7 linked regions of the Homo sapiens genome follow. The protein of the gene in region 7 purifies or fractionates together with the protein of the main gene of each other region. This does not show direct contact. Each region holds a gene or a part of one and is shown on either strand. Other genes may lie near its edges. The genes, in order: SFXN1, SCCPDH, CRAT, ALDH2, OCIAD2, LETM1 and SLC25A20.

What was found.
Region 1: the proteins of SLC25A20 (region 7) and SFXN1 fractionate together in Homo sapiens (co-fractionation; one large-scale study listed by BioGRID). This does not show direct contact.
Region 2: the proteins of SLC25A20 (region 7) and SCCPDH fractionate together in Homo sapiens (co-fractionation; one large-scale study listed by BioGRID). This does not show direct contact.
Region 3: the proteins of SLC25A20 (region 7) and CRAT fractionate together in Homo sapiens (co-fractionation; one large-scale study listed by BioGRID). This does not show direct contact.
Region 4: the proteins of SLC25A20 (region 7) and ALDH2 fractionate together in Homo sapiens (co-fractionation; one large-scale study listed by BioGRID). This does not show direct contact.
Region 5: the proteins of SLC25A20 (region 7) and OCIAD2 fractionate together in Homo sapiens (co-fractionation; one large-scale study listed by BioGRID). This does not show direct contact.
Region 6: the proteins of SLC25A20 (region 7) and LETM1 fractionate together in Homo sapiens (co-fractionation; one large-scale study listed by BioGRID). This does not show direct contact.

Annotation. Positions count from the first base shown.
Region 1 is NC_000005.10:175,506,060-175,509,559, forward strand, and holds part of SFXN1 (sideroflexin-1), read left to right. Parts: intron 1-2,972; coding exon 2,973-3,143; intron 3,144-3,500. UniProt on the Homo sapiens protein: Amino acid transporter importing serine, an essential substrate of the mitochondrial branch of the one-carbon pathway, into mitochondria.
Region 2 is NC_000001.11:246,734,151-246,738,397, forward strand, and holds part of SCCPDH (saccharopine dehydrogenase-like oxidoreductase), read left to right. Parts: intron 1-1,824; coding exon 1,825-1,905; intron 1,906-4,247.
Region 3 is NC_000009.12:129,093,560-129,097,556, forward strand, and holds the end of CRAT (carnitine O-acetyltransferase), read right to left. Parts: intron 3,754-3,997; coding exon 3,691-3,753; intron 2,577-3,690; coding exon 2,439-2,576; intron 2,054-2,438; coding exon 1,838-2,053; 3' UTR 1,235-1,837; downstream 1-1,234. UniProt on the Homo sapiens protein: Catalyzes the reversible transfer of acyl groups from carnitine to coenzyme A (CoA) and regulates the acyl-CoA/CoA ratio. Also plays a crucial role in the transport of fatty acids for beta-oxidation.
Region 4 is NC_000012.12:111,814,646-111,818,442, reverse strand, and holds the end of ALDH2 (aldehyde dehydrogenase, mitochondrial isoform 1 precursor), read right to left. Parts: 3' UTR 911-3,797; downstream 1-910. UniProt on the Homo sapiens protein: Required for clearance of cellular formaldehyde, a cytotoxic and carcinogenic metabolite that induces DNA damage.
Region 5 is NC_000004.12:48,893,020-48,897,266, forward strand, and holds part of OCIAD2 (OCIA domain-containing protein 2), read right to left. Parts: intron 1,035-4,247; coding exon 987-1,034; intron 1-986. UniProt on the Homo sapiens protein: Has an essential role in the assembly of mitochondrial respiratory chain complex III. Is also required for STAT3 activation and plays a role in cell migration.
Region 6 is NC_000004.12:1,817,865-1,822,111, forward strand, and holds part of LETM1 (mitochondrial proton/calcium exchanger protein precursor), read right to left. Parts: intron 1,609-4,247; coding exon 1,474-1,608; intron 1-1,473. UniProt on the Homo sapiens protein: Plays an important role in maintenance of mitochondrial morphology and in mediating either calcium or potassium/proton antiport. Mediates proton-dependent calcium efflux from mitochondrion.
Region 7 is NC_000003.12:48,860,532-48,864,778, reverse strand, and holds part of SLC25A20 (mitochondrial carnitine/acylcarnitine carrier protein), read left to right. Parts: intron 1-2,119; coding exon 2,120-2,237; intron 2,238-4,247. UniProt on the Homo sapiens protein: Mediates the electroneutral exchange of acylcarnitines (O-acyl-(R)-carnitine or L-acylcarnitine) of different acyl chain lengths (ranging from O-acetyl-(R)-carnitine to long-chain O-acyl-(R)-carnitines) with free carnitine ((R)-carnitine or L-carnitine) across the mitochondrial inner membrane, via a ping-pong mechanism.

The sequences.
Region 1 (3,500 bases), on a different chromosome or scaffold from region 7:
TGCCCGTCTCGGCCTCCCAAAGTGCTGGGATTACAGGCGTAAGCCATTGTGCTCGGTCCACATTTTCATATTAAGATAAATTCCAAATTCATTAAAAACCTAAATGACAAAAAGAAAACAACTATTCTGAGAATGCTAGAAATATCGGTGAACATTTGTATAATCTTTCTAGATAGAAACTTTATTCCTACCTGATTACATAAAAATAATAATTTTCAGGACAGCAGATAACACAACCAAAAAAATAAAAATTGGGGTTAATCGCAGTGTATAAAATACGCGTACAAATTACATAAATAACAATGATGCTGCTGTGGATGGTAATTTTTTAAAAAAAGACTAGTCAAGTAGAGAAAAAAGATAGAAGACATAGCCAAAGTTTTAATGTTGTACATAGCTTTTGTTCCAGCATATTTACTCATTTCTTTCAGAATAATCTTGGATGTGGGGATAGATTTATGTATGAGGGTTTATTTACTTCCTCATCCTTTACAAATGGAGTAAAATTAGAAGCAATTAATATGCCCAACACTAGGAGATTGGTATATATTACAGTATCTTATAATCATGTAGGAGAATACTATACAGTACTTAAAAAGTTGGTGTATTCATTTCTTTTTTTTTTGAGACAGAGTCTCACTCTGTTGCCCAGGCTGGAGTGCAGTAGCACAATCTCAGCTTACTGCAACCTCTGCCCCCCAGGTTCAAGTGATTCTCCTGCCTCAGCCTCCTGAGCAGCTGGGATTACAGTTGCCTGACACTGCACTGGCTAATTTCTGTATTTTTAGTAGAGACGGGTTTTCACCATGTTGGCCAGTCTGGTCTTGAACTCCTGACCTCGTGATCCACCCACCTTGGCCTCCCAAAGTGCTGGGATTACAGGCGTGAGCCACCATGCCCAGCCTATTAATTTCTTAAGGCTGCCATAACAAATTGCCACCAACTTGAGCCTCACAGTTATGGAGGCTCAAGGTCTGATATCAAGGTGTCAACAGGGCCATGCTCCCTCTAAGAATCCTTCCTTGGGGCTTCCAAGGTTCTAGAGGCTCTAGGAATGTTTTGATGCACCTTGGCTTATGGGTACATTGCTGTCATCTCTGCCTCCTTCATTACTTGGCCTTCTTCTGTGTCTGATTGCACATGGCCTTCCTATAAGGACACCATTCATTGGATTTAGGGACCACTCTAATCCAGTATGCCGTTTGGCATTTGAACTAATTGCATCTGCAAAGATCCCATTTCCAAATAGGGTCACATTCTGAGGTTGCAGGTGAGACATGAATTTTGGGGGAGACACTGTTCAACCCAGTATAGATTATATAGAAGAATATCTGAAGACAGAGAGAAATGTTTACAGTATATTACTGAGTAAAGAAGGTGGTTATAAAGCAGCAGGTCTGGTGTGATGCCTTTAAGTAAACACATCACATTTAGCTTCTAGAGGAGAGACTGAAAATACATGCATGAAAACATTACCAGTGGAGATGAGTAGGTAAAGACTTGAGTGATTTTAATTGCTCTAATGGATTCCTGTTTTTTCTCAATTTTTGACAATGAATACGTGCTTCTTTGATAAAGAGAAGAAGTAAAGAATGAGGCACCTAATTTTTTTTTCATCAAGAGTCTTCTGAGGCTGGGCATGGTGGCCCACGCCTGTAATCCAGCCCTTTGGAGGCCATGGCAGGCAGATCGCCTAAGCCCAAGAGTTCAGAACCAGCCTGGGCAACATGGTGAAATCCTGTGTCTACAAAAAATGCAAAAAAATTAACCAGGCATGGTGGCGCATGCCTATAGTCCTAGCTACTCAGGAAACTGAGGTGGGAGGATCACTTGAGCTCAGCAGTTCAAGGCTGCGGTGAGCTGAGATCATGCCATTGCACTCCAGCCTGGGTGACAGAGTGAGACCCTGTCTTTAAAAAAAAAAAAAAAAAAATTCTTCCTGAACTAGCTTTTCATTCTATAGGTATAAAAATGAATTAATATCCTTGATTACCATAACTTTTGTCTAATTGTTTAAAGTATTTTAGAGTTTACAAATTCAAAATACATTATAAAATATGTCACTTGAAGAATATTTCAAAATTGAATGCTTTCCTATTCCCTATATATAATTTCTTTTCTGGCTTTTCCAAACTACAGATAATTTGAGATGAATAGATTTGATTTTTTTTTTTTTTTTTTTTTTTTTTGAGAGGGTCTTTCTCTGCCCAGGCTGGAGTACAGTGGTATGATGACTGCTCACTGCAGCCTCAACCTCCCGGGCTCAAGTGATCCTCTTGCCTCAGCCTCCCAGGTAGCTGGGACCACAGGCATATGCCACAATGCCTGACTAGTTTTTATTTATTTTTATTTTTTTATAGAGACAGAGTCTCACCATGTTGCTAAGGCTGGTTTTGAACTCCTGGGCTCAAGCAATCCTCCTGCCTCAGCCTCCCAAAGTGCTGAGATTACAGGCATAAGCCACCGCGCCCAGCCTGAAATGTTCATTTTAAGTGTTTATTGTCCTGTATGTTTTGAAATTTTTACTGACTATATGTAACAAATTTGTCACTCCATCTAGGCACAAGTGTTTTAGGTGAGCATAAATTTTTTTTTTTGAGACAGAGTCTCGCTTTGTCACCAGGCTGGAGTGCAATGGTGCGATCTTGGCTCACTGTAACCTCTGCCTCCCAGATTCAAGCAATTCTCTTGCCTTAGCCTCCTGAGTAGCTGGGATTACAGGCGGGTGCCACCGCACCCGGCTAATTTTTGTATCTTTAGTAGAGACGGGTTTCACCATCTTGGCCAGGATGATCTCTATCTCTTGACCTTGTGATCCACCTGCCTCAGCCTCCCAAAGTGCTGGGATTACAGACGTAAGCCACCACACCCAGCCAGAGCATAAACTTTTAAAACCTTGTAGCCACTTGTCTCTAGGACACTGGGGAGATATTTGAAATGAGCAATTGCCATATTATTTGTTGTTTTCTTAGGCAAGGAATTGTTCCTCCTGGTCTTACAGAAAATGAATTGTGGAGAGCAAAGTACATCTATGATTCAGCTTTTCATCCTGACACTGGTGAGAAGATGATTTTGATAGGAAGAATGTCAGCCCAGGTTCCCATGAACATGACCATCACAGGTTGTATGATGACGTTTTACAGGTATGTTATGAATATGTAGCAACAGTGTGTTTACCATTACAGAAGCTCAAAGTATATTTTTGTATGTAAATAATTTTGTTGAAATAAGTATTATTTCATAAGTATATGAAGTGACAAACAAGGTAATTAGCTTGATTGAATCATTCCGTAATGTACTTATGAATCAAAACATCATGTTGAACTCCTTTAGTATATACAATAAAAAATAAAATTGAAGACAATAAAAAACAAAAAATGGGGTATTATTGATGTAAAAGAAAAGAAGTCATTTCACTTTTAGTTCCATTATGTTTGAATGTTGCTACTCTGGGACTCTTTTTTTTTTTAACCCTTCCCCTCTGCTAAATAGCATCTTCT
Region 2 (4,247 bases), on a different chromosome or scaffold from region 7:
TTCTAAAGCAGGTGGACTCATGGCCAACTTGAGAAATTTGGGGGTGAAATAACTTAAGAACAAGGCCGAGAAAGCTCCAAATGAGTTTTAAAATGGATGTGTGCAAACCCTAAGGATCAACCAGGATAATCCACTGGGTGCAGAAAGCATATGGAGCTTCAACTTCTGTTTTAATCTCAACTTTAGTTCTATTTAAATATGTTTAAAATGTGTGTTTTATTCATTTGGTAGGCAATTTAAGTGATTTATAAGTAAATTCATATAGTTAGTAGGTGATGGATTCCAGGTGTGAACTTGGGTCTTACTGCCTTGAAATCCTTTGTTCCATGATACCATACTGCCTCAGAAGTAGAGTTCTTCATTAATTTCATGTGGTTTGTTAATGGGAGGGTAGGAACTCGAATTTCACACACTTCTCCCAGTCCTGTAATTCCAGTGTTATCCGCCATTCTTAGTAAGAGGTGTGAGGTCTTGGAGTTAGGTAAGAGGGCAGCCCATCTGACCTATTTGTAAAGGTCGATTGTGTCTTTTAAGTGTCCCTTGTTCCTCAAAGGCTGGAAGAAAGAAACGATTTCCTTGTTCCATCTTTTGCTGCCAGGAATGAATAAAGCAGAGGAGTTTGTGCTTCTAATCTACTTCTTCACAAAGGAAAAGATTTGTCATGCTTCTTTGGAAATGGGACTGAATTCTGATGTATTAGCTTTTACATATGAAAATTTGTATTTTAATTCCTTGAGTTTGAATAACAGATAATATGGGAAATCTAATATCATACAGGCTCAGAATATCTGCTCTGTTCAGTATCAAACTTATCCTTTGCAAACTCTCTTCTTCCTGTTGGTTTGTTTTTAATTTTGACCAATAATACCACTGGTTCTTGGCCCCCATGTCCAGCCCAGCTAGTCAGGAAATCCAGTCATTTCCACCTTTTTAGTATTGTATGTCTCATCTTTAGTATATCGTCTGTGCTATAAGTCTTATACCACTATCCTGTTTAAAATTCTTCTGGAAAGCCAAGTAAACTAGAAAGGATAAAGTTGAAACTTGTTAGCATGGCACATGTGGTCCTTCCTGATGTGGCCGTAGCCTGCCTTTTCAGACCCATCTCTTTCTACTTCCTACTCAAGTGAATTTGATTCCTGCTTCAAGCAACAGGAACAGCTCCTTTTTCTTAACCTCTGCATTTACTTTTTCCTGTATCTGGATTTTTCTTTTTCCTGGAAAATTTTTATTTGTTCTTTAGGGTTCAACTCAAGGGAATCACTTGTATGAAACTTTTCCTTTTGTCTTCAGGTAGAGGTAAGCATACATTGCTCTGTAATTCCATCATGCCTTTATTTATTCACACTGTGAGAGATGGTATTGTGCAGGTATCTTCTCAGTTTATCTTTTTGTTTCTGAGACGGAGTCTCACTCTGTCGCCCAGGCTGGAGTGCAGTGGCACGATCTTGGCTCACTGTAATCTCCACCTTCCAGGTTCAAACCATTCTCCTGCCTCAGCCTCCCGAGTAGCTGGGATTACAGGTGTGTGCCACCACGCCCGGCTAATTTTTGTATTTTTAGTCGAGATGGGGTTTCACCATGTTGGCCAGGCTGGTCTTGAACTCCTGACCTCAAGTGATCTACCTGCCTCGGCCTCCCAAAGTTCTGGGATTACAGGTGTGAGCCACTGTGCCTGGCCACTTTCTGAATTTATCTTTAGGCTATTTTATTAACAGTTGATTTCTTGATAACTAGGACTGTTTACTTCCAGGATTAGATGGCATTTTATTCATTTAAACTTGTCAAGCAAGAATAACCTCTTTGTTCTTTTTGTTTCCCTAGTATCGGTTTTATGGAGAACCTGTAATAAAAGCATGTATTGAAAATGGAGCCAGTTGTATCGACATCAGTGGAGAACCTCAGGTATAAAAAATAAAAAGGAAAAACGTAGAATTAACACATAAATTTCGGTTTAATGAAGTGGAAATATTTAGTGTAATTTTGCAGACATATTTAGAAGCCGACAACTCCTTTCTAGCATTCAGATATGGTATTCGTGTGGTATTCCATTGATAGCTCAAAGGAGAGCGCTGATGGTAAGGTCTTAGCTTCAGTTTTCTGAATTTTTTCCCTCCCTACAACATCATTTCTTATAGGTCTGTGCTTATTATAGCTACTTCATGCTTTAAACTGAATCAATTAAAATAGCGGACTGTGCATAATTCTTAGAATCTCAATTCTGTCATGTTTTCATTTTGAATTCCCTTTTAAAAATCAGGTACCTTTAGGCCGGGCACGGTGGCTCACACCTGCACTCCCAGCACTTTGGGAGGCCAAGGCGGGCAGATCATGAGGTCAGGAGATCGAGACCATCCTGGCCAACACGGTGAAACCCCATGTCTACTAAAAATACAAAAAGTGAGCCGGGCATGGTGGCGGGCACCTGTCATCCCAGCTTCTTGGGAGGCTGAGGTGGGAGAATGGGGTGAACCTAGGAGGTGGAGCTTGCAGTGAGCCGAGATCACTCCACTGCACTCCAGCCTGCGCCACAGAGCGAGAGCGAGACTCTGTCTCAAAAAAAAAAAGAAAATTCAGTTACCTTTATAACATTACAGAAAAATAAAGGTAAAATTCACTAGTGTAAAATCAACCTAAACATTTTAAATGTTCACATTTATTGAATGCTTACCATATGCCCAACATTGTGCTAAGTGTTTTATGTAACTTTTTAAAAATATACCTATAGGGTAGTTATCTTCCTCCATTTTTTGTAGATGAGGAAATTAAAGCTTAGGAAGCTTAAGTAACTCACTCAGTAATGCACCTAGTAATGCACCTAGTAATGCACCTAGTAAGTAGAAGAACTAGGTCTTCAATTGAGGTTTGCCTGACCACAGGAAGTTATGTGTTAACAGGCATTAAGCTCTACTACAGCCTTTAAAATGGTAACCTCATGTGTCTCTGTAGTAACTACTGATTATCATCATCAGCATGCCAATATGATATTAATATGCATTTGCAGTTTATCAATTGGTAAAATACTGGAAAATACTGAGACAGTGTAAATTACAAAAATTGATTCAAAAAGGAGGAAACAAATTAAAAAAAAAAAAAAGCCCAGGCGAGGTGGCTCACGCCTGTTACCCCAGCACTTTGGGAGGCTAGGTGGGAGGATGACTTGAGCTGGTGAGTTAACAAATTAGCCAGGAGTTGGTAGCACACACCTGTGGTCCCACCTACTCAGGAGAATGAGACAGGAATATCACTTGAGCCTGGGAGGTCAAGGCTGCAATGAGCTATGATCATGCCACTGCACTCCAGCCTGGGCAACATAGTGAGACCCTGTCTCCAAAAAACAAAAACAAAAAACAATTCCCATGTTATTTTAAATAACCCAGAACATAGAAAATGGTGAAAAGCTTTTAAGTCATCTAGAAACTATCATAAAAGTAGTATCGAACCCCCCCCTTTTTTTTTGATACAGGGTCTCTCTCTCTCACCCAGGCTGGAGTGCAGTGCTACGATCTTGGCTCACTGTAACCTCTGCCACCTGGGTTCAAGCGATTCTCCTGCCTCAACCTCCTGAGTAGCTGGGGGTACAGGTGCACACCACCACACCTGACTAATTTTTGTATTTTTAGTAGTGACAGGGTTTCACCGTGTTGGCCAGCTTGGTCTTGAACTCCTGGCCTCAAGTGATCCACCTGCATCGGCCTCCCAGAATGCTGGGATTACAGGCATGAGCCACCACGCCCAGCCATAATATCAAAACCTAATAAGGAGTTGGGCACGTTGGCTCATACCTGTAATCTCAGCACTCTGGGAAGCCAAAGTGGGTGGATCACTTGAGGCCAGGAGTTTGAGGCCAGCCTGGCCAACATGGCGAAACCCCATCTCTACTAAAAATACAAAAATCAGCCAAGCATGGTGGTGCACGTCTGCAATCCCAGCTACTCAGAAGGCTGAGGCATGAGAATCACTTGAACCCAGGAGTTGGAGGTTGCAGTAAGCCAAGATTGCGCCACTGCACTCCAGCCTGGGCAACAGGGTCGGATCCTGTCTCAAAACAACAACAACAAACCTATTAAAGAACCAGAGGGCTGGGTGCGGTGGCTCACACCTGTAATCCCAGTGCTTTGGGAGGCCGAGGCAGGCGGATCACGAGGTCAAGAGATCGAGACCATCTTGGCCAACATGGTGAAACCCCATCTCTATTAAAAATACAAAAGTTAGCTGGGCGTGGTGGTGCACGCCTGTAGTCCCAG
Region 3 (3,997 bases), on a different chromosome or scaffold from region 7:
TTTCCTAGCGGTTCTAGTCACCCCCAGAGGGAGCACCCTGTTGTGTAGCGAGGAGCAGAGTCCGGGTGCTGGTCCAGGTGACATTCTCTTCCAGGCCTGCGTGTTCCCCCCAGAGGCATCCCTTTCTCTGCCTCCATCCATTTCCTCCATTGTCTGGGCTACACCTCCTGTCCCCTTGGGGCACTGGGCAAGTGGCTGCCCTCTCCTGCTGAGTACACCACCAATGGTCAGGCCTGGCAGGTCCCTGCGCCTGATTAGAGCTCAGGCTCAGCCCAGCCTCCCTCTTTACCCGCTTCCTTGTGGTCCTGAGGCTGGGCCGGTTTCCACCCATAGCATCCCTTTCTCCACCCCCTGCTGCGGGACACCTAGGTGGATGTGGCCTGGGGCTGGGGACCTGGCTCTAGGGAGGGGCTTCTTGGAGCCCCGGCCTAGAGGAGACAAGTGTGGCCTCTGTGAATCCTGCTCTGCCATTTAGCGTCCCGGTGACCTTAACCTCGCTAAGCCTGCTTCCTCATCTGACAAACGGAGAAAACCAAAGGCCCCACTCTCGGATGACTGTCCCAGCTTAGTCAGGTCACAGAGCCCTTCACTCACAGGCCAGCCAACCTCCCCCAGCCCACCCCGGCATCCGCCCTTGTGGTTTCACACAGGCCTTCCTCACAGGCCAGTGTCCTAATGGGAGACTCTCCCCTCTCCACAAACTGCACGCTTGGTTTTGCCAGGATGCCCTGCCTCAGCCATGGACACGGGGCTATGGGCAGGTATGTGGTTCTGCTCTGATCGCACCTGCCCACCCCCGAAGGTGTCTGTCCTGGCAGCGGCTGGGCCTGGGGCAAGCTGAGCCTGCTGCTGTACTCCTACTTTTGCTGGGCTCAGTTGGGGGAAGTAGAATGACACCCTGGGCCCCTGGGTATTAGCAACATTCATCAGCCCACCAGACCTGGGCCTGCTGGGCCCCACAGTCCCCTGGGAGAGTTGCCCCTACCCACAACCCATGGGACTTGGGAAGGCCCAAGCCAGAGGTAGGTGGGAAGCTGCTGGTGAAGGACGCAGCCCTGGCTCTGGTATGGTTCTGGGCCCAGTGCCCCAAGGTCACAGCTGGACCTTGGCTCCTGGGCCAAAGCCCTCAGGCCCACCAGCTGCTTGGACACCAGCTCCGAGGCCCAGGGAAAGCTGAAGAGGGCAAGGCCAGGTGCCTGCCCCCACCCTGCCTGCCTCTCAGCTGAAACACCTCTTCACCAACACAATTCCCCTTTATTGATGACCTTCCACATTAATATCATACAGCAGGGCGGGGGCAGGAACCAAGCTGAGTGGAACCAGAGGCGGCTCGCTAGCAATGTTATCCACAGGAGCACAGCCGCAACGGAGGTGAAACCTCACACCCTGGCCCCTCGGCCCCAGACAATCCTGTCTCCAGGTCCTGGGAGTTTGGGAAGCAGGGTACAGATGGTGGCCTGGTCATGGAGTTGGCAGGGAGTGGCCGGGGCTGAGCTGGTGAGACAAAGAGCTCTTGCCAGTCTCCTGCTCTGGAGGGCTGGTTCCCTTCCCCAGAGGAGGCACCGGTGGAGGACGTGCCAGGGGCCCGGGCCTAACGTCCTGCTCAGCCTCTGCACTCAGCCCCAGGTCGGGCCCTGGCAGGTGCTGGGATGACCCACGGAAGGCACTTGGCTGGGGCCTGCAGGCCCCCTGGAGGATGCGGTCCGTGGCTCAGTAGATTTGGGGGGACCAGGGAAGAGGGAACCAAGGAAGAGGGAACCAAGGAGCTGAGCCCTGGTGGGTGGCCCATCCCAGGGTGGGCTTGGCTGTGGCATTGGCAGGCCTGAGTCCTAGGGGCTCAGAGCTTGGCCCGGGGGTGGCTCTGCAGCAGGGCACGCATGTCCAGGAGCGCCTTCTCCAGGTAATGCGCCAGGCGGGCGGCGTTGGTCTCCGCGCAGCTGTTGTAGGCCGACAGGGAGAAGTTGATGTGGGCCTCCATGGGGTTATAGCAGACACCGTAGCCGTCGGGGACCACGGGCCCGAAGAACATGACACAGTCTGTCTTGGCAGGGACCTGGGGACGGCAGGATGAAAGCTCTCAGCTCCCCTACCTTGACGCCCCCAGCACTTCCCAGGCTGCCTGTGCTTCCGCCAAGACTGCAGGCCCCTTGTGGGCAGGGATCATGGTCTGTCCCCTGCTATATCCCAGCAACCACTACAGGCTGGCACGAATCAAATGTTCCTTTATACCTGACCAGTGAGTCAGCGAAGCTGATTCTCCCATGAGGAGCACTGACCCCTTCTCAGCCTGCCTGGGCTGCAGAGAGGCCCCTGCCCCCAGCTCCTCCTCTGGAACTCAGCTGTGTTGGCAATGGGTCAGTGGGGCCTGTGTAGGCCACATCAAACTACCAGTGGGTTCTCTGCCTCCAGCCCCCGGGGCACCTGGGGCAGTGGCCCACCTGGCTGGTGGAGAGGTGGAAGTGCATGGCGATGGCGTAGGAGGTGTCCATGAAGATGTCGGGCATGCTCACCAGGTCCTCGATGGCCTGCAGCTTCAGGCCCAGCAGGTGTCGATCAAAGGCCTCCCCGCGGATGGCCTGTTGGGGTGGGAGAGCTGTCAGGAGCAGGGGCTGTGGACCCCCGGGGTATCCCTGCCCTCTTCAGCCTGTGGCAGCGCCACCCTTCGCAGGCACTGGCCACTCAAAACCACAAGACCAGAGTATTCTGGCCAGAGAGAGCCTTCGTTTCACAGATGGGGAAACCAAGGCTCAGGGAGGGGCGGGGATTTGCCCAGGGAGGCAGGAAAGTGCAGGGTTGTAGGGCAGGGCCCTGGAGCTGGGTGACCTAGCCCCATCCTGGCTGCAGGGCCTTGGCAGGTTGCTTAGGTTCTGGAACTGTAGTGTCTTCATCTGTAAAGAGGGGTGAGTCCTACACTCCCCTCGCAGGGTGGCGGTGAGCTCTAAATGGACGTGTGCATGTAGCACGGTCAGAGCCTGGACACACAGGTGCTCAGAGACAGAGCCAGGACACGCATCCAGACAGCCACCTCCCTGACTGCAGCCCAAGCTGCTGGAGGGCAGGAAACTGGCTGTCTGCTGGACCATGTATACCTAGCGTCAGGGAGAGATACCTAGCATCAGGGAGAGAGTGTGACCCAACATCTAGGGCCCAGGCCAGCCCTGGAACCTGGAACCAAGGCAGTTACTGGGCCCAGGCTGGGTTTCTCCAACTTTAAAATGGGGATATTTGGCCGGGCACGGTGGCTCACGCCTATAATCCCAGCACTTTGGGAGCCTGAGGTGGGTGGATCACCTGAGGTCAGGAGTTTGAGACCAGCCTGTCAACATGGTGAAACCCTGTTTCTACTAAAAATGGAAAAATTAGCCAGGTGTGGTGGTGGGTGCCTGTAATCCCAGCTACTTGGGAGGCTGAGGCAGGAGAATTGCTTGAACCTGGGAGGCGGAGGTTGCAGTGAGCCTAAATCACACCACTGCACTCCAGCCTGGGCGACAGAGCAAGACTCCATCTCAAAAAAAAAAAAAAAGAAAAAGTTGGGGGCTATTCAGCCTGGCTCCAGGTGCTCCCAGGTTGGGGGAGATGTGGTCCTAGCAAAGGGTTGGCAGCCATTGGCTGCAGGGACGGACAGTCAGAGGGACAGACAGATGGCTGACACTAAGGGACAAGTGAGTAGGCACAAGCGGGCTCACTTACCCGGTCGGTGTAGCCTCGGTGGGCCTGCACGGCCTTCCGCAGCAGCTCCACCTTCTGGTGCTCCTAGAGTGGTGAGGGTCAGAGGGAGCTGAAGCACTGTCCCTTCTCTTCTGGCCCACCTCAGTAGCCCACCCCCACCCAGCACTAGATTCTGAGCTCTTTAAGAGGAAATATTGGGGCTGGGAGCGGTGGCTCACGCCTGTAATCCCAGCACTTTGGGAGGCCGAGGCAGGTGGATCCCTTGAGGTCAGGAGTTTGAGACCAGCCTGGCCAACATGGTGAAATCCCGTTTCTACTAAAAATACAA
Region 4 (3,797 bases), on a different chromosome or scaffold from region 7:
AGAATACCACTCAGGAAGCTGGGAAACTACTGGAGCATCAGAGCCAGGCAAAACACCCTGATTCCATGTTCTTGGCCATGTTAGCCATAATGTCCTGTGTGGTATGTTTTCCCTGTGCAGAGGCAAAAACATTTTGGGCATATGTTCCCAATCCCCTAGTAGTACAACCTATGCTTTGGAGTGACACTCCTCCTGAGATTTATCGTGATCAGCAAGTATGGGCTCCAGGACCCCTAACTCCCCTTAAAATAGAACAGTTAGACTCTCAGAACAATGTCATTAATTATACCACCCCACTAGAAGGACTCCCCTTGTGTATCACTACAAAGACATCGCTTAACTGTAGCTGTCTTATAATTCAAGCTCAAGAATGGTTGAGTCATTATGGAAAAGTCATGTGCCTATTAAGTCTTGGTTCTATTAATGTAACAGGTGTGCTAACCAACCATTCCCGGCCCAATCACCCTAATCGTGCTGACTATATGGAATGGATTCCCTTCGATAGTTACTACCCCCCAAGACATGGACCCAATGTCTTGACCCACTGGCTAGAAAACAATCTATGTTAACTGGAGACATTGTGGATTGGGGACCTAAAGGTCAACTATATGGAAAACATGAAAATCAGAAATCATGGCACAAACTTCGCTGGCATTGGTGGCAAGATTTTAATGCTTCTTCTTTATACCACACCGGGATCTAATCCCAGTCTGCCACCCAGATTGCTTGACATGGAGCAGGCTTTAGCCCGCCTCTTCCTCAGTGGCATTATCTAGGGAGGAAAGGACCAATCCAAGAGATGTTATGGAAGGCAGCACTCCCATTTATGAATGGCGGGATACTATCCAGTGATAGCAATAGTAAGCAACACAGTCTTAATGTTACATTTGTAAAGAATATCACCACTCAATTTATGGTTTGTCTTTTTAATCCTTATGTCTTTTTTGGCAACTAAGAAGGACCAGCTCCAGGTAAACAATATCCAATTGACCTGTAAATCTTGCCAGTTATGTCACTGCATTAATCATAGCACATTGCAAACACATAATGTCTCTACTTTGATAATTTTGGGTCGCATCCCTGGGCTATGGATTCCTGTTAATCTGTCCCAGCCTTGGGCTACCACACCTGCTTTGCACTTCATGAAACATCTTCTAACTCAACTTACTCATTGTGCCCATAGAGCCTTAGGCATGATAATTTTTGCTATTGTTTCCTTGGTCACATTAATAACTTCCGTTGTGATGTCCTCTGTAGCTTTGCATAGTTCTATTCAAACAACTCAGTACATGGAAAACTGGATGCGTATAGCCAACCAAGCATGGCCACTTCAGAATAAAATTAACACTGAGTTACAAACTGAAGTGGCATTGTTGAAATCCACGGCTCTACAGTTAGGAGAACAAGTACAAAGCTTGCAATTGCAACAGCAATTGCACCATCATTTTAATCACACTCATATTTGTGTAACCAACTTAGAATATAACCAAAGTGAGTATCCATGGGACCTTGTGAAAGCCCATTTGCAGGGAGCTTGCACATCCAACATCACCTTTGATATCGGTGAATTACAAAACAAAATTCTTGATTTAAATAAACAAACTCAAGAGTTTCAGCCTTCTTTAGAAGACTAGACCAAATTCCAGCAAGGCCTGGAGAGCCTCAACCCTTGGACCTGTCTAAAGCACCACATTAACATCTTATATGTAGTCCTTGGAATAATGTTGTTTTGTCTCTGTCTTCTGTTCATAGTCTGTAAAATTGGATGGACTGCCAATCAGAAAATGAGAGCTGCCCAGCCTGGCCTTACATTCTTTCAATTAATTCATAAACAGAAAGGGGGAAATGTAGAGAGCTGAATGCCCATGGGTTGTGACCAACTCAGCATTCCACTGAGGCTATATGATCAAACAGCAAACTGTTTATCATAAATGCAGAATGTGGGCAAACTCACTTCTGCTTCAGCCGCCAGAAGGTTCGCTGAGGGCAATCACTCCCTGGCGCCATGCTCTTTGAGGTTATCTACTGAGACATCTAGAGCCTACTGTTCAAAGAATGCAATCTTGTGAGCCTGCTGTGAATCAAGCTGCTGACCGACAACCACCCCCCCTTCTCCCTATCTCCTTTACCCAATAAATACAAAGGGCACTAAAGCTCAGGGCCCTTTTTCACTAGAAGCAAGGAGCCCCCTGACCCCTTCTTCCAAATATACTCTTTGGTCTTTATCTTTATTGCTGTGTTCGTCCCCTTTTGTTCAGTCCAACAGGGATTAGGTCCACGTCACCTTTTAAACAACCAGCTCTTGAGTGAACTCATTACCATGGGGGAGGACACCAAGCCATTCATGAGGGATCCACCCCCATGATCCTAACACCTCACACCTTGCCCCACCTCCAACACTGAAGATTACATTTTAACATGAGATTTTGAGGGGATAAATATCCGTACTATCAGAGAGGTTACTTCAAATGTTCAGGTGCATGACATTTTGATATAGCTTTAAAAATAAGCTATTAGGGCTGTGCCCAGTGTCTCATGCCTGTAATCCTAGCACTTGAGAGGCCAAGCCAGCAGGATGACTTGAGGCCAGGAGTTCGAGACCAGCCTGAGCAACATAGCAAGACTCCATCTCTCTCTCTCTCTCTCAAAAAAAAAAAAAAATATATATATATATGCATGGTAGTGCACGCCTATAATCCCAGCTACTCAGGAGGCTGAGGTGGGAGGATCACTTGAGCCCAGAAGTTCAAGACCAGCCTAAACAACACAGTGAGACCCCATCTCTACAAAAAATAAGCCATTAGACTCTCAGGTTATTATTTTTATTATTGCCAGGTATCCTCACCCTTACTCCTGGCATGGAAGATACAGTAGGAGTCATAGATGGCTGTAGGTCAGGTGCTGTCTCATAAGTAAGCCATATCGCCAGGCATCACATCTATGCTCTCACTCTAATATATGTATATTGTAACCCCTTCTATGTGCCAAGGCAGGAGGATCACTTCAAGCCAGGAGCTGAAGACCAGCCTGAGCTACATAGTGAAACCCTGACTCTCCAAAAATAATTAGCTGACTGTGGTGGCACATGCTTGTAGTACCAGCTATTTGGGAGGCTGAGGCAGAAGAATCACCTGAGCCTAGGAGGTAGAGGCTGCAGTGAGCTATGATCGCACCACTGCACTCCAGCCTGGACGACGGAGTTAGACCCTGTCATTAAAAAATATAAAAAATGAAAATATTGTTAAGAAGCTCTTGAGAAGGCTCCAAGTACAGTTCCTGGCATGTAGTGGGTGCACAGTTAATACTTCTTGGGGCCACAGGATTGGGCATCAGATTTACATTTCACTGAAACTTTCTATACCATCTGCATCTATTTCCTTTTGAAAAATGTAAATAAAATCAATACAAATGAACAAATGTCAGCTCTGTTTTATCCTTCACAGAATAAGCCAAATGAGAGTTGGAAGTGACTGCAGAGATTGTGAGGAAATGGAAGCTCAGAAGTTGTGTGGTTTGTCCAAGTTCCCCTGACCAGCTCTGGGACCCTGTTTTTTTCAGTTGAGGTGAAATTCACATAACATAGCATTTACTTTTTTTTTTTTTTTTTTGAGACAGAGTCTCTCTGTGTCACCCATGGAGTGCAGTGGCACAATCTTGGCTAACCGCAACCTCTGCCTCCCAGGTTCAAGCGATTCTCCTGTCTCAGCCTCCCAAGTAGCTGGGCACATGCTACCAAGCCCAGCCAATTTTTTGTATTTTTAGCAGAGATGGGTTTTCATCATGTTGGCCAGGCTGAT
Region 5 (4,247 bases), on a different chromosome or scaffold from region 7:
AATGAAGTCTCTATTTAAAAAGAACAGGATTGGGAACTGGAGACTTCCCCATCTCAACTTTGCACTGGTGGTGGAAGGGCCAGGACAGAGCAAGCCACAGTGCTGTCCTGGAGACAGATGGCCAGAGAGGGCCCACCTGTCAAGCAAACGGTTGAGGCCACGGGGGCAGGGGAAGGTGGCTGGGTTGTGGCTATAGGTAGCTTCCAAATCACTGGGTAGAAATGCCCCTAATCTTCCTTATGGCCTTGGAGTAGTGGAGAGCTTCAGTCCATCTTGCCTATAGGAGAGAGGTCACAAAGGAGAGGGACCCTCCTATGGAAGAGATCTCGAATCTGTTCCTCCTGCTAGGAATGAATGTGGTTTCAGACTATCAACTAAAATGTGTCCTTTTTGTACATAAAAGATCTATTGATACCAGGTGAAGGAAGATGAAACCCCAAGTTTGTGGTTACTCTATTATTAGAAATCCCCTGATTCTTAAAAATTACTCATTTTTTATATCCATCGTAGAAAACATTTTGAAAAGACTGGCCAGGGCAAAAGAAGAAAATAAAAATCCATAAATGATCTATCATGCAGAGGCTCTGCTATTGATAATCTCATTATATATCCTGCCAGTCCCTCTTAGTCCATGCTTTAAGGATGGTCTAAGAAGAAGTCCCAACTGCTAAGCTGTATATCAGAAAGTGTTGAGTGAACTAAGAAATGCAGAGTGGCAGAAAATAGGGGCTGATTTTTCCAAAAGTCAATACAGGCAGTTTAGTTAGGCTGGACATTCGTATCTCCAGTTGCTAGTAATGTCTTTTTTTCAAAGTTTTTATTTATTTATTACTTTTTAAAAAAATAGATACAAGGTTTCACCATGCTGCCCAGGCTGGTCTCGAACTCCTGGACTCAAGCAATCTACCCACCTCAGCCTCCCAAAGTGCTGGGATTACAGATGTGAGCCACCACACTTGGCTTGCTTTTTTATTTCTATGACTTACGTGCAACTTTGGGCAATGATCCAAATCTAGAATTAGCTGCCAAATAACCTAAGGAGTAATAAAGAAAAACATTATTATTTCATTTCATAAATTAAATTATAAGTTATAAATTATAAGTTATTCTTAAAGTATAAAGAAACCTCCAAAATTTAAGACATAAAATTTCTTAAATGTATACATATTCTGACTTTAAAAAGATGATCTTGGCTGGGCGCAGTCACTTACGCCTGTAATCCAGCACTTTGGAGGCCGAGGCGGGCAGATCACCTGAGGTCAGGAGTTCGAAACCAGCTTGGCCAACATGGTGAAACCCCGTCTCCACTAAAAAAATACAAAACTTAGCCAGGCATGATGGTGGGTGCCTGTAATCCCAGATACTCAGGAGGCTGAGGCAGGAGGATCGCTTGAACCCAGGAGGCGGAGGTTGCAGTGAGCTGAGATGGCACCGATGCACTCCAGCCTGGGTGACAGAGCGAGACTCCATCTCAAAAAAAAAGATCTTAAAGGAGTTATGATTCAATTCTCAGTTGAATTGAACTCCCAGATAGTCATTTTAGGCAAATTACAAATATTAGCTGTAATGTGTAGAAAAATAATATGAAAAAGACAGTTCAAGACTGATTCAAAGACATCAAGCAAAGGTAGGGCTAACAACAGTGTTCAAAGAGATTAGTCATCATCCTCTTTTTTTTAAAATTATACTTTAAGTTCTAGGGTACATGTGCACCCTCTTTTCTTTTTAAGTAACTTAACATAGAAAGTTTCCATTTGGAGATTCACAGTGTATATCATTATTTTACAATGCAAACAGTACAACTCATGGTAGTTAGAATAATGGCCTTTTAGAGATACCCACATCCGAATTCCTGGAAAAGGTGAATATATTATGTCCCAAAAGGGGGATTAAGGTAGAAAATGGAACTAATGTTGCTAATCAGATGACTTTAAAAGAGAGAGATGATCAAGGTGTACCCAATGTCATCCTTCAGTGTGGAAGAGGAAACTGGTGACAGGCAGAGAGATGGCAGCAACAGAAGAACTTGGCTCAATGTTGCTGACTTTACAGTCATAGGAAGGGGCCACCGGTTAAGAAATATGCATGGTTCTAGAAACGAGAAAGGAAAAGGAAGCCCAAGAGCCTCCAGAAGAACACAGCTGGGGCGACGCCTTGATTTTAGCCCAGTGAGACCCATTTCAGCATTCTGATTTCCAAGGACTGTAAGATAATACATTTGTGTTGTTTTAAGTCACTCTGTGGTAATTTGTTAGAGAAGTTATAGAAAACTGATATCAAACTCTGAAAAAAATGTATTAGCATAGATGCAAAAAATGGTAGATGTCTTAGTCTGTTTTCTGCTGCTATAACAGAATACCATACGCTGGATAATTTATAAAGAACAGAAGTTCACTTGGCTCACAGTTCTGGAGGCTGAGAAGTCCAAGAGCACAGAGCTGGCATGTAGTGAGGGTTATCCCATGGCAAGGAAGTGCATGAAACAGAGAGCAAGAGGAGAGGCTGAACACATCCTTTTTATAAGGAACTCACTCCCATGATAATGGTAGTAATCAATTCACGAGGGTGGAGCCCTCATAACTTAACCTCTTAAAGGCCCCACCTCTTGATACTGTTACAATGGCAGTTAAATTTCACCCTGAGTTTTGAAGGAGACATTCACACCACAAGCAGTAGATTTGGAGTATTTTAATACTTATAAAACATAATCCTGGCTGGGTGCGGTGGCTCTTGCCTGCAATCTCAGCACTTTGGGAGGCTGAGATGGGCAGATCACTTGAGGTGGGCAGATCACTTGAGGTTAGGAGTTTGAGACCAGCCTGGCCAACATGGTGAAACCCTGTCTCTACTAAAAATACAAAAATTTGCTGGATGTGGTAGCACAGGCCTGCAATCCCAGCTACTAGGGAGGCTGAGGCAGGAGAATTGCTTGAACCCAGCAAGTGGAGGTTGTAGTGAGCCGAGATCACACCACTGCACTCCAGCCGGAGCGACAGAGTGAGACTCCATCTAAAAAACAAACAAATAGACAAACAAAAAACCCATAATCCCCATAGATGTCCCAGCCCCAATATTTTTATGTGTCAAAAATGATCTGAAAAATGCTATCTTCAAATTATAAAAATAAAATCATATTTAATATATGACCTTTATGGACAAGAATGATATTGGTCAAAGTGGGATTCTCCTAGATATGTGACATGTGGTTTTTGAGACCCAGAAAAGAACTAGGACTTCTTCCCTCATATTTACTGGTACAAATGTTCCTTTTAAGATCCTGGTAATCAAGGCTGGGTGTGATGGCTCATGCCTGTAATCCCAGCACTTTGGGAGGCTGAGGTGGGAGGATCACAAGAGCTCAGGAGTTCGAGACCAGCCTAGGCAATATAGTGAGACACTGTCTCTGCAAAAATTAAAAAAAAAATTAGCTGGGTGTGGTGGCATGTGTCTATAGACCCAGCTACTTGGGAAGCTGAGATGGGAGCGTCACTCGAGCCCAGGAGGTTGAGACTGCAGGGAGCCATTATATCACTGCACTGGATGAGGGTGAGACCCTGTCTCAAAAACAAACAAACGAACCAAAAACCAACAAAACAAAACCCCAAGATCCCCATAAAGTCCTGATAATCAGAAGCCAGGCATGGTGGCACGTGCCTATAATCCCAGGTACTCAGGAGGTCTAGTGGCGAGGATTGCTTGAGCCCAACAGTTTGAGGACAGCTTGGGCAACATAGCAAGACCTCGTCTCATTTAAAAAAAAAAATAGCAAAATCCTGTTAATCAGCAGTGTTTGATAAAATGGGCTTAAACAAGATAAGGTGCCTTCTTGCCACCTGTGGACTAAGGAATGTCTCTGGGTTCTCTGGTCAGGTGGAGACAGGGAGGAGATGAAGAAGGAAGAACAGAGAGGAAAACAGGAAAACGCTAAGAGGCAGGGAGAGGTTATGTGGTGAGATGCAAGGCAGCTGCTGGTCCTTACGGTCTCTTGTATGGAGGAGACAGGGTGCCCTCCTCAGGCAGATGCAGCCTCTTGCCAAAAGAAATGGTGTGGTGGACACAGCTTAGGGTGGATTTTAGCTCCCCCCACCTCCTCCCTGCAACATCCTTATTTGTACAGGGAACCATCTGTCTAACCATATACAGAGGCCTTGGGAGACACAGGACTCCGGCACAGAGAAAGGCACAGGATTGCTTCTCTGTAGTTCCTGTAAACAAAGCAAATTTATTATCTTACAGTTCTTGAGGTC
Region 6 (4,247 bases), on a different chromosome or scaffold from region 7:
AGCCTCCCACTCCCAAGCAATCCTCCTGCCTCAGTCTCTGGAGTAGCTGGGAGTACAGGCACACAACATCATGCCTGGCTAATTTTTGTATTTTTTGCAGAAATGGTGTTTCACCATGTTGCCCAGGCCGGTCTCAAACTCCTGAGCTCAAGTGATCCTCCTGCCTTGACCTCCCAAAGTGCTGGGATTACAGGCCTGAGCCACCAGTGCCCAGCCTTAAGTGTCTTTTTAAATTCCAAGTTGTTTTTTTCCCACGAGTAAACACCATGAGGAAGAATGGGGAAGGCGAGGGGAGGGGAGGGAAGGAACAGGCTGAGCTGGTGATAAGCACCTCACATCCAGTGGAGAACCCACATGGCATGAGGGCTGTCATAAATCTAGAAATGGCCAATTATTTTTGCCAATTGAAAAATCAGTTATCATTCCCAACAGAGCTATGAAAACAGTTTTTAAAAAATCGTATTAGGGGCCGGGCACAGTGGCTCATGTTTGTAATCCCAGCACTTTGGGAGGCTGAGGCGGGTGGATCATGAGGTCAGGAGTTCGAGACCAGCCTGGTCAACATGGTGAAACCCTGTCTCTACTAAAAATACAAAAAATTAGCCAGGCATGGTGGCACATGCCTGTAGTCCCAGCTACTCAGGAGGCTGAGGCAGAAGAATCATTTGAACCCAGGAGGCGGAAGTTGCAGTGAGTCGAGATCACGCCACTGCACTCCAGCCTGGGCGACAGAGCTAGACTTCGTCTCAAAAAAAGAAAAAAAGAAAGAAAGAAAGAAAAAAAATCGTTATTAGGAAGTAATATTTACAAAAAAAGGGAAACAAACCACCATGGAAGAAAAGAAAAAAGCCACTTTCACGTAATCATGAATAAGATCTCGTCAAGTGACCAAACTCTTCATGAGACACCTTCCCATGTTTAGAAACTAAAAGATGTGGCCAGGCACGGTGGCCACGCCTGTAATCCCAGCACTTTGAGAGGGCGAGGCAGGTCGGTCACCTGGGGCCAGGAGTTCGAGATGAGCCTGGTCAACATGGTGAAACCCCGTCTCTACTAAAAATACAAAAAATTGAGCTGGGCATGGTGGCACATGTTTACAGTCTCATCCACTCGGGAGGCTGAGGCACAAGAATTGCTTGAACCCAGGAGGTGGAGGTTGCAATGAGCTGAAATTGTGCCACTGCACTCTGGCCTGGGCAACAGAGCAAGACCTTCTTACAAAAAAAAAAAAAAAAAGGTGCACACACATCTGTGGCCAGAACGGCACACAGCCACATTACAGAGGATTGGTCCAGCCGGAATGGCTGTGGAAAGGTTACTGAATAAGGTTTATTTATAACGTGCTTTCCTCTCCAAATACTCTTTGGCCAGCTTATCAAGTATCTGACGGAAGTATTATGTATACTTTTGGGGCCAGTACAGCGATTTTACTCTTCTTGCAGTCTCAGAGTCCAGGGAGCAAATCCCACCCACCTCGCTGTAGTCCTGCACATCCTCCTTCAGCAGCTCCAGCTCCTCCTTCTCCTTGGTGAGTGACTTCTTCTGCTCCTGCAGCTTAGAGCAGGCATCGCTGAGGATGTCGATTTCCTCCTTCGTGATCTCTTCCTCCTGGGATAAAAATGGGCAAACAACAAAGCCTGAGCCAAGGGAAAGAACTGGCCTGTTCCCAAGTGACCAGCTGCTCTGTTCATATTATACGGGCAGCCCAGGGCAAGAGTCTCACTGGACAGTCATTGGTAACAAGAGACCCGCGGGGTTCAGGTTCACTGCTGCGCTGGCTGCTGCACGCAGTCACTGTCTGCCCTCATATGCCAAACCCCATTTGTTTAAAGCGCGTCATCTATGAATTGACACGTGTACTGTGAAACTTCACTACAGTCAAAGAGTCACCTCCAAATGCATCTTTGTGCCCCCACTGGGTCCCGCCACCGACCCCCAGGCAACCTCAGGTCCTGCCACTGCAGACTCGGGTGCACTTTCTAGCATCTTAGATAGACGGATCATCCAGCAAGCACTCTTTTTGTCTGACTTCTCTCACTCACTTATTTTGAGATTTGCCCCTGTGGTCGTGTGTTTCTTGTCTTGTTTTTTGAGACAGGGTCTCACTCTGTTGCCCAGGCTGGAGGGCAGTGGTGCAATCATGGCTTGCTGCAGGCTTGATCTCCCAAGCTCAAGCAATCTCCTGCCTCAGCCTCCCCAGGAGCTGGGACTACAGGCACACACTGACATATCTGTCCAACTTTTTATTTTTTGTAAAGACGGCGTCTCACTATGTTGCCCAGGCTGGTCTCAAACTCCTGGACTCAGACGATCCTCCCACCTCGGCTTCCCACAGTGCTGATATCACAGGTGTGGGCCCCGCGCCCAGCCTCTCTGTTTGGTTTTTCTTTCCCTCAGCAACATTTTACAGTACTCCGTGGACAGCACTTGCATATCTTTTTCCAAATTTATCCCTAAGTAGTTCATTTTGGGGGGTGCCATACTGTTCAAACCTTCTCTGACTACTCATTACCATAGTGAAGCACAATTGATTGTTCACACCATTTGTGAATAAAGAGTTTTCCTTTTTCCTTTCTGATCTATATGGTTTTGTTTTCTGTATTCAACTGCCCTGACTGAAACCCCCAAGCTGATGCTGAGCTCAGAGTGAGGACAGACAACCTCATCAGCGTCTCACCACTGAGGGTGACGGCAGCTGGAGGTGTTTCTGCAGATGCTTTTGATTGGGCTGAGAAAGCTGCCTGCATGTGCAGGACATCTGCATATCAGGAACAGATACTGGGTTCTGCCACAGGCTCTTTCTGCAGCTACCAAGATAAACATTCCCAGCTTTTCTAATTTAGTCTGTTAATATGGAAATTACATTTTAAAAATTTTGGCCAGGCACAGTGGCTCAAGCCTGTAAACCCAGCACTTTGGGAGGTCGAGGTGGGAGGATCACTTGAGGTCAGGAGTTCGAGACCAGCCTGGCCAACATGGTGAAACCCCATCTCTACTAAAAATACAACAATTAGCTGGGTGTGGTGGTGGGCACCTATAATCCCAGCTACTCGGGAGGCTGAGGCAGGAGAATCACTTGAGCCTGGGAGGTCAAGTCTTCAGTGAGCCAAGGTCATGTCTGCACTGCAGACTGGGCAACAGAGTGAGATCCCACCTCAAAAGAAAAAAAATTCAAGCCAATTTGCATTTTTTGGACAAATCCCATGTGATCATGATTCTTTTTACAGAATAGTTCTATTTGATTTGCTAAAAAGTGAAATTTTTTTTTTTTTTTTTTGAGACAGAGTCTCACTCTGTCACCCACTGCAAGCTCTGCCTCCCAGGTTCACACCATTCTCCTGTTTCAGCCTCCTGAGTAGCTGGGACTACAGGTGCATGCCACCATGTCTGGCTAATTTTTTGTATTTTTAGTAGAAATGGGGTTTCACCATGTTAGCCAGGATGGTCTCGATCTCCTGACCCCGTGATCCGCCCACCTCGGCCTCCCAAAATGCTGGGATTACAGGCGTGAGCCACTGCGCCTGGCCAAATTTTTTTTTTATGGCTGGGTGTGGTGGCTCACACCTGTAATCCTAGCACTTTGGGAGGCTGAGGCGGGAAGATCACTTGAGGTCAGGGGTTTGAGACCAGCCTGGCTAACATGGTGAAACCCCCTGTCTACTAAAAATACAAAAATTTGCTGGGTCTGGTGGTGCACGCCTGTACTCCCAGATATTGGGAGGCTGAGGCAGAAGAGTTGCTTGAACCTGGGAGGCTGAGACTGCACTGAGCCGAGATGGCGCCACTGCACTTCAGCCCGCGAGTTCAAGATGGAAGGTACCAGGAGGCGCCCCAGGTAGGCAGCACAGGCGCCTGGAGGCTGCACCTCACAGGCTCGCATGGGGAGTCTGAAGATGCTCCAAGCCCAGATCACCCCACAGGAGGTGACAGCAGGTTGGGCCTGTGGAGGAGGCTCTACCTTGAGGGGCCACATTGGCTTCCACACCCCTTCACTGTCTGGGCAAGCTGGCAAAGGGCCCTGAAACCTGCCGACTGGCATCTCTACCTGCCACACTGTGGGCCAGGGTGCTAAGTTCACGGCAGCGTCAGCTGCTGTGCACCCAGGCACAGTGCGGAGCCCGGCCGGACTCACTCTTTTCCTAACCACCAAGCCTCCTAGGGGCCCAGTGGCCTCATCCTCAACCCCTTGCACCATCTCCTCTCACTGAGGGCTATAGATGCCCCAGCTAACCTGTCCCCATCCCTGC
Region 7 (4,247 bases):
GGGCCTCCTTACTTGTTTCCCTTCTTATAGTCTGTACATACATAACAATGATAGGATTCTGTAAATATGTTATTCCTATGCCCAATCCTCCACGGCCCCCCAGGTCACTGTGAATTGGCTCCAGCATTCTCAGATAACATGACCTTCCTTCTGTTCCTCAGACATACCAGGTACATATGTCTGGATACTTTGGGGAAGTTATACCAAAAAAAAAAAAAACCATTGATACTCAATTGACATTATCTTACATTTATTATTTTTAGAAAAATAGAAATCTTTCTTATTGAAAACTTTTCCCAACTAGAATTAGGACTCTTTTTATTGACCTCTTATTTTGTAATCCTCAGATATTTTAGAGTTTTATTTATACAAAGCCTATTGCTTAATTCACATATTTGTTGCTTTTTTTTTTTTTTTTTTTTTTTTTTTTTGAGACAGAGTCTTACTCTGTCACCCAGGCTGGAGTGCAGTGGTGCAATCTCGGCTCACTACAACTTCCGCCTCCCAGGTTCAAGTCATTTTCCTGCCTCAGCCTCCTGAGTAGCTGGGATTACAGGCATCTGCCACCACGCCCAGCTAAGTTTTGTATTTTTAGTAGAGATGGGGGCTCTCACCATGTTGGCCAGGCTGGTCTCGAACTCCTGGCCTCAGGTGATCTGCCTGCCTTGGCCTCCCAAAGTGCTGGGATTACAGGCGTGAGCCACCGTGCCCGGCTTTTATTGCTATTTTGAATGGGATCCATTTCTTGTATTGATTGATTGATTGAGATAGAGTTGTGCTCTGTCTCCCAGGCTGGTGTGCAGTGGCACGATCTCGGCTCACTGCAAACTCCACCTCCTGGGTTCAAGCGATTCTCCTGCCTCAGCCTCCTGAGTAGCTGAGATTACAGGCATGTACCACCACGCCTGGCTAATTTTTGTATTTTTAGTAGAGACAGGGTTTCACCATGTTGGTCAGGCTGGTCTCAAACTCCTGACCTCATGATCTGCCCGCCTCAGCCTCCCAAAGTGCTGGGATTACAGGTGTGAGCCACCGTGCCCGGCCTTTTCTATTATTTTTTAACTGGTTAATCCTGATATGTAAGAAAGCTATTTGGTTTATGTATTTGTAAGTGTTTCTCTTTGGAACTGTTAAAGCTGAACTCCCTTTCCAGCTTTAATTATTGTTTGGTTGATGCTCTTGTGTGTTCTGACTCCTCTTGGTCCTGAACAAGCGGGATCCCTGTGTGGATCCTGCATGGAGCTGTCTTTCAGATCTTTCCTGGGATTACCCCTGCCTACCCCCAGGTTCTTGGCTCTCAGGGGCGGGGTAGGAGCCTCTCTTTGGCCCTCCTCTGGCTCTGCATAGGAGCCCTCTCTGAACAGGACCCCTGTCTGGGAACTTAGAGCTTTGAGTGAAATTTTCTGTTCACCTTTTCTTAACCAACTCTCATGACCAGGTAGGCTTGGAATGCAGTTGGTCTTCAGGGGATATTTGTTGAAGGAATAAATGAATGACTAAAGTATTTGTCGCTTCCTTTTTAGACCTTCCAAATAGCTTTATTGTGTTTGACAGATTTCCTCAACTTATTTTTTATTTTTAAATTTTGAGACAGTCTCACTCTGCTGCCCAGGCTGGAGTGCAGTGTGGTACGATATGTTTTCTAACTGCAACCTCTGCCTCCCAAGTTCAGGCGATTCTCCTGCCTCAGCCTCCTGAGCAGCTGACTACAGGCGCCCACCACCATGCCCAGCTAATTTTTGTATTTTTCGTAGAGACAGGGTTTCACCGTGTTGACCAGGCTGGTTTCAAACTCCTGACCTCAGGCGACCTGCCTGCCTCGGCCTCCCAAAGTGCTGGGATTATAGGCATGAGCCACTGCACCCGGCCTCCTCAACTTGTTTTTCAAATTTTCTGTTGGTTTTATTTCTAGTCAATGTGAATGTTTTCTGATATTTTCACCTAGCCTTATTTCATAGTACCTGCCCCAAGATCACACATTCCAGATACTTATCAATTTGACAGTGAAGTCTTTTATTGCTGTAACACATAATGGCCATACTTACTTTGTAGTCTCCTGTAACCTGCTGGGTCTGTGACTCTGATGTTTCTGACTTAATGATCCTCTCCTCCCTCCCAGATTCAGGCTTCTTCAGGAGAAAGCAAGTACACTGGTACCTTGGACTGTGCAAAGAAGCTGTACCAGGAGTTTGGGATCCGAGGCATCTACAAAGGGACTGTGCTTACCCTTATGCGAGGTAACCTTTCAGGCCTCCACTTGAGGTCACCTGGGGAGGTCACCTGAGGTGGGTCTGCTGCAGAAGGTCTTGCCTGGATTGCCAGATTAGCCTTGGCACCATGCATGTCACATCTCTGACAATACTGGCAGTAAGCATCTCCCCCTGGCCAGCATGGACGTAGATTAGGATGAGGGGACCTTCCATCTTTCCCAGGTGTCTGCAGGGGTAGAAGTCATGGCATCACAGTTGGAGGGGAGTGGCAAGTAGATAGAAATCATCTCTGGAGGGAGGAGTGGGAAGAAAGTGTGACTTGGGGACAGTGGTGATCTCCCTGGTTTTGAGAAGTATGTCCTGTTATAGTGGCAGTAGGAAAGGCAGAGACAGTCTCACTCTTGTCCTGAGCTGGCAGCTTAGAGGAAGGCCAGATACAACAACTGTGCTTATAACTGTGGGCATGTCACTTGCCCACATGGACTTTCACACTGAGAGAAAACCTTATTTATTTTTTTACTTATTTTTATTTTATTTTTTGAGATGGAGTTTCACTCCTGTTGCCCAGGCTGGAGTGCAATGGCACAGTCTTGGCTTACTGCAACCTCTGCCTCCCAGGTTCAAGCAATTCTCCTCCCTCAGCCTCCCAAGTAGCTGGGATTACAAGCACATGCCACCATGTCTGGCTATTTTTTTGTATTTTTAGTAGAGATGGGGTTTCACCATGTTGGCCGGGCTGGTCTCAAACTCCTGACCTCAGGTGATGCACCTGCCTCGGCCTCCCAAGGTGCCGGGATTACTGGTGTGAGCCACCGCACCCGGCCTTATTATTATTATTTTTTGAGACAGAGTCTTGCTCTGTCACCCAGGCTGGAATGCAGTGGTGCATTCTCAGCTCACTGCAACCTCCACTTCCTGGGTTCAAGTGACTCTCCTGCCTCAGCCTCCTGAGTAGCTGGGGTTACAGGTGTGTGCCACCATGCCTGGCTAATTTTTGTACTTTTAGCAGAGATAGGGTTTCACTATGTTGGCCAGGCTGGTCTCGAACTCCTGACCTCAGATGATCCACCTGCCTTGGTCTCCCAAAGTGCTAGGATTATAGGCGTGAGCCACTAAGCCCAGCTGAGGGAACTTTAATGAAATTATATCATGTGTGTTTGTACTCACTTACACCAGTGCTTGGCCCAGAGCAGCATCCCATAGCTGCAAAGTGATTGTTGCAAATAGGATGTGGCTGCTAAGGAACTTCTCAAGAATCCCTGAAGGGTCTAGTGCCAAGCTTGGCTTTTCTACATTCAAGAAATCTGTGGGGGCCGGGTATGGTGGCTCACACTTGTAATCTCAGCACTTTGGGAGGCTGAGTTGAGAGGATCACTTGAGCCCAGGAGTTTGAGACCAGCCTGGGTAAAATAGTGATACCCTGTCTCTATTAAAATAATAATAGCTGGGCGTGGTGGCTCACCCCTGTAATCCCAGCACTTTGGGAGGCCGAGGCGGGCGGATCACGAGGTCAGGAGTTCAAGACCAGCCTGACCAATATGGTGAAACCCCATCTCTACTAAAAATACAAAAATTAGCCGGGCGTGGTGGCGCATGCATCCCAGCTACTCAGGAGGCTGAGGCAGGAGAATTGCTTGAACCCAGGAGGCAGAGGTTGCAGTGAGCCGAGATTGCACCATTGCACTCCAGCCTGGGCGAGAGAGCGAGACTCCGTCTCAAAAAAAAAAAAAAAAAGTAAAGTAATAATAATAATAATACTATATTCTTTTTCTTTTTTTTTTGAGACAGAGTCTTGCTCTGTTGCCCAGCCAGGAGTGCATTAGTGTGATCTTGGCTTACTGCAACCTCCACCTTCTGGGTTCGAGTGATTCCTGTGCCTCAGCCTCCTGAATAGCTGGGATTACAGGCATGTGCCACCAGGCCGGGCTAATTTTTGTATTTTTTGTATTATTATTATTTTTTTTTGAGATGGAGTCTTGCTCTGTCACCAGGCTGGAGTGCAGTGACTCGATCTCAGCTTACTGCAACCTCCACCTC